Regions from separate parts of the Homo sapiens genome. Here region 2 is linked to region 1. The links come from fine-mapping of genetic effects on gene expression. Tissue or cell type: whole blood. Region 1 holds a variant in brackets; the other region holds the start of a gene. All regions are shown on one strand. Distances are from middle to middle.

Region 1 (2,760 bases):
TTGTAACGTGAGCCGAGATTGCACCATTGCACTCCAGCCTGGGCAATGAGAGCAAAACTCTGTCTCAAACAAACAAACAAACAAACAAAAAAAGAAATAGAACTCCGGCTGTTTGATCAGTATTCTTCAAGTCACTAAAAATTAAACATTAAATTGTGAATTCACATCCTGGGTATTTACGTTTCAGTGGTAGTTCAGAATTTAGGGTTTTTCTTGTGTATTGATAGAAAACTCATTTTAAAAATACTGATTATGGCAATGCAGTTAGTAAGCTAAAATTTTTTCCTTCTATTACTTTTTGTCTTTTTTTAAATTTGAAGTGGAGTCGTGCTCTGTCACCCAGGCTGTCTGGAATGCAGTGGTGCAATCTCAGTTCACTGCAACCTCCACCTCCCGGGTTCAAGCGATCCTCCCACCTCAGCCTCCTGAGTAGCTGGGACTACAAGCACCCACCAGGTTTTTTGTTTTTTTTTAGTAGAGATGGGGTTTTGCCATGTTGCCCTGTCTGGTCTCTGACTCGTGAGCTCAAGTAATCCTCTTGCCTCGGCCTCGCAAAGTCCTTGGATTACAGGTGTGAGCCACTGTGCCCAACCTTCTAAGTTAATGATGTTAATTAAATATTTTTTCATTTGGGGCATGCCCAGCAACTCAGGGTAAGCCAAATTTATAGTTTATGGAGATGCTAAGTAAAGTGGAGACACAGTTTATGCATATGCAGAGGACTCATCTGCCATTTTCAGACTTTCTTGGGTGTTCCTATCAGTTTCCTGTCAGTGACTTCCTCTCTCCCTGATGGTAAAAACTAAACTTGGTAACGTGGTCTGCAGCCCCTGAGAAACCTGCTCCTTCCAACCTCCCGGCTTCATGCTGCTCATTCTCCCCAGCGTTCTTTTTGCCCTAAACACACATTGCATTCTTTCAGTCCTCCAACTTGCCACCCATATTCCTCTTCCTGGGGTGCTTTGCTCTATTTTCTTCACCTAGTTAAGGTCTCATCATTCAGTTCTCAGGCCAAGCATTGCTTATTTGTGGAAGAGGTCTCTGATCCCCCTG[G/A]CGAGGCCAGCTTCCCTGTTCATTCTCTCATTGCACCATGAGAGGGCTGCATAGCCCTCCTGACCACTGTCATTTTATAGACTTTTGTGCAGTGACTTGATTAGTGTCTGTCTTTCTCATTGGTGTGTGAATGCCAGGACTCTGGTTTTGCTCAACATGGGGTTCCACAGCCTGGCATAGTTCCTTTGCACATGGCAGGAGTTCAGCAAATATTGATGGGTGCATGACTTTGTTCATGGTTGTCTCTGTGCATCTGCACGGGGGTTCCCTCTGCTTGGCATGCCACTTACACACTGTCTCATCTCTAGATCTTTTTGCACCTTAATATTTTGAGCCTTTAGTAGAAATACATACAGTAGGTTCTCACTTAATGACCTCAATCGGTTCTTGGAAACTGTGACTTTAAGCAAAATGATGTGTGACAAAACCAATTTTTTTTAATCAACGTTATAATAAAACAATGTTGAACAAAACGATGCTATTTGAGGACCTGCTACACATAGTTCTGCTTAAAGTCGCAGTTTCCAAGAACCTATCAAAAACGTTAAGTGAGGACTTACTATGTGTTTAATCATATGATATTTTATGTAACCCAGCTAGCAGCTGAGGCCACATTGCCTTCTAGCTCTACTTCTGCCTGTATTTTTTCTGCTTTATGATCTGTCAACTTGGACACAAACCCCACTCATACTCTTAACCCACTTCCAAGCCTTTATGGGCTTAGTGGCTTTGGTGAGACTTTGAGGGGCTGTCTTCTTTATCACTGCATTGACTCTTCTTTTTTCTCTCTCTTTTAACTTTCTCTTTCCTTCAGTCTCTTCTTCCTCCTTCACTTCAGGAGTGTCACAGACATCTCACCCTTCTCAGGATAATTTTGTGGAAGCCACAGTGCCAGCCAACATCCATGACCCCATGGGTACCTCCCTGGCTGAAGTGGGCTGACCCAGGGTCTTTTCCCAACAATGATGGATCCTGTACAAGATGAATTCTGGTACCTGCTGCTAAAAGGATACAATTTCATTATTGTTATGGGCTGAATGTTGTGTACCTCCAAAATGGGTATGTTGAAATCCTAACCCCCAAGGTGATGGTATCAGGAGGTGGAGGCTTTGGGAGGTGATTAGGCAATGATGAAGAAGCCCTCTTGAATGGGATTAGTGCCCCTTTAGAAGGCACCCCATAGAACGCCCTCATTATGTGAGACACAGTGAGAAGAACCAGGAAGCAGGCCCTCACCAGACATGGAATCTATCAGTGTCTTGATCTGGGACACTCCAGCCTCCAGAACAGTAAGAAATAATAAGTTCCTGTTGTTTATAAGCCAACCAGTTTATGGTATTTTGTTATAAAAGCCAAAATAGACTAAGAACATTATGTTATATTAGAGTGATATCATATAACTGATCAAGTTTGGAGGATGTCCAGTGCCCTAGCCCATGCCGTCTGAGGAGAGGTTGATGAAGAGAATGATGAGAGGAAGTGAGAATAACTTTCTCACCTTTCCTGAGACACATTCCTCCTACCATGGTCCCATTACGGGGCCTTCCTACAATCACTTTCCAGCTTTCCCTTGTTTCCCTGTTTCTACCCTCAGACAAAGTAGTAGAATGATTACATTCTCAAGAGGTCCTGTGAGGATGCTTGGGCAAAATCAGACTCATGTCAGGCCATTTTAATTTCTAGAATCCCCGGATAGGACCTGCGGCC
Region 2 (2,630 bases), 49 kb before region 1:
TGACTTCAATTTTCTTACTTTGCACCTGAAAGAAGGTATTTTGGGGAAATATCAAACTATATAACAAGATATCATACAAGTATACAAAATAACAATTTATCGTACAGATGCCCCAAAGCCTGTAAGAAAGAAACTCCCTATTTTTTTAAAATAAAAATTCTATCACATTCTTAATAATCAGTGCTTTACCCTAGAGGTTGGGAGGCTTGGTCCTCTAATATTCTTCATGAAAATTAATACTTACTATTTAGCATGAAGATTAAATGTGTGAATAAGAGAAGCTCTATAGGTTCCAGAACTGTAGCATAGTAGAATATTACTCATATCAAGTATGGTCGGCTTTTCCCTCTGTAACAAGGCGTTTCTCTTCAAAGAAAACCTCATCCCAAGCCAATATTATTACTAAACTACCGAAACAGTCTTTTGTTTTTTAAGTTGGCAATTACTTGTAAGTGTTATACACCGAAACTTTACGTGAAAGGAGTACTACATTTCTCAACTCCAATTTTCCGTCCCTTCACCACCCCTATTCTGGACAGACCGGCTTTGAGCGCTTAGGTTACGGAGGGGCTGGGCTTCCGACCAAGGTGCAGCTGTAATTAAAGAGGCTGGGTTTCCGATCAAGGGACAACTCCATCTAACCTCCTCAATCCCCGTTCTCCAACCCCAAACAAGTTTGGTTTTGTCAGGAACAGCAATTCCCTGAGGAATGACACTCCTCTTCAATCCCCATCTGACCGCTCCACCACCGATCTGCCTTAGTTTCCACCCTTTTGAGCCCGACGTGGAGAAAGAGGAGGCGTCCCTGCACTCCTGGCCAAGAAGCCACCGTGGGGACCAGGAAGCAGGAAGTGACCTGCTGTCTCCATGGGGTTCCAGGGTTCCCCCGGCCGGCCAGGGGGCCAGAGCCGAATGTCTTGACCCAAATCCCGTCTTCTGCGCCCGCAGTCTGACAAAAAGTGAAAACACGGACTCGAACCCGAGGGCTCAGCCTCTGCCGGCCTGGGGGTTCCTCGGTCACCCAAACTGGTGCGAGGAGGCCGGCGGGGGATGGAACCAACGTACCTCCGGGGCCAGGCCGGACAGCTACTCTGGAGTCCAGGAAACCAACTGGAGAATCAGCCCGGAGGCGAGTCTGGCAGGGACGTTGGGAGAAGGCGCCCAAGAGCACTCACCACCTTCGCCGCGGTCCCCAGCCTCTTCCTGTCCCGGCCGGGCTCCCTCTCCGTGTTTTCCTTCGGCCCCACTTCCGGCGCTCAGCGCTGTCTCATTGTGCGCGATTGGGAGCCGACTGTGCCCCCGCCCTAGCGCTCCGCCGCGCACACCGGAAACGAGCGACGCGCCCCGCCCCGCGGTGCCCCGCCCACGCTCCGACCCCGCCTCCCGCGCCTTTGCCAGCCTGGCCTCTCCTGTCCGGCGCCCCAGCGCACTCGCTCCAGGTGTCGGGCGCCGGGTCTGGCCACCGGGCGCAACCGTCGGAGCGGGCTAATTACTGGCTCGCCGGATAGCCGGTTCGCCGGCGCTTGGGGGCCAGGCCCGAACTTCTTACCAGAGCGGCGCCCGCCCCTTTTCTCTCCCGGCTTCGACGCTCCTCTGGTTCCCCTCTCTGCTCGGGAGGCTAAGTGCTCGGGAGAGGCGCGGGAGCCAAGACTTATGCACCCGGAGAGGGACGCGGAGCCAGCGGTCGGGCAAAGCCGCATTCCCCGCGCTTGGGGCCTCGGCTTTGCCCCTGGGTGCTCCCCGGTTACTTCCAGGGGGAGTAAAGGCTCCGAGGCCTCGTAGCGCTCTTGGTGTTTTTCTGATAATTCGTAGTGATTAATGTTTTCGTGAATTCTTAATTGCCGACCTTGTAGAAATGCCAGCATTTAAACATCCACTGCTCACCCAGATCTCAAAGTGGTCAAGGAAAATGCTCTGCTTTTTTCTTAGGTTGTGTAAGGATTACTTTTACTTGGAAAAAAAAAAAATCAGTTCATTTCGAAGAATATGTGTAATGGCAAGGGATGACCAGAGAGCGTTACATTCGAATTTTTGAGTTGAAGAGTGCACACCTCGAACTCGGGGTTGCTTTTTCTTTCTTTACTGTATGACCTTCCTTGCTGTTTACAGTGTTCTAAATGCTTTGAAAAACATCAAGCAACTAGTGAAATTAGGGAGCGTTGGGAAAATCGACAGTTTTCATTTCTCTGCTTTTTTAAAGCATGTAAATTGAAAGCTGTCAGGTCCTGTGGAGCAATGGTCTTAAAATAATAACACACAAAGTTCTGGCTATGCCAATAACTGTTTTGAAGGCTTTACAAATATTAACTCCTTTGTTTTATATTTTTGTAGAGACAGGGGTCTCCTATGTTGCCCAGGCTGCTCTCCAATTCCTGACCTCAAGCCATCCGCCCAACTTGGCCTCCCAAAGTGTTGGGATTACAGGGGTGGTCCACCATACCCAGCCTTAACTTCTTTAATCCTCACAGCTTCATGAAGACTATATCATTATCCCACTTTTAAAGATGAGGACATTTAGCACTTGCAGTGAAGTAAATGGCACTGCTGCAATCCAGACCCTGAATATGAGGCTGTTATTAACCATGTGGCTATACTAAAAGTGATATAAAACACATTCCTACAACTTTTAT

The links. PIP is the estimated chance that this variant, and not a neighbour inherited with it, causes the effect.
Region 2: it holds the start of TUT7, and the variant in region 1 is fine-mapped to the expression of TUT7 in whole blood (TOPMed, PIP above 0.99).

What each region holds. Positions count from the first base shown.
Region 1 is chr9:86,402,021-86,404,780 of GRCh38, forward strand. No RefSeq gene overlaps it. Among named protein-coding and RNA genes, the nearest start is that of TUT7, 49 kb to the left of the region's middle. The variant G/A (reference allele first, on the strand shown) is at 1,054.
Region 2 is chr9:86,353,206-86,355,835 of GRCh38, forward strand. TUT7 (terminal uridylyl transferase 7) reads right to left here and starts at 1,205. Exons shown (of 27, transcript NM_024617.4): 1 at 1,066-1,205; 2 at 1-25. RefSeq lists an enhancer at 1,054-1,263 and a silencer at 1,284-1,463.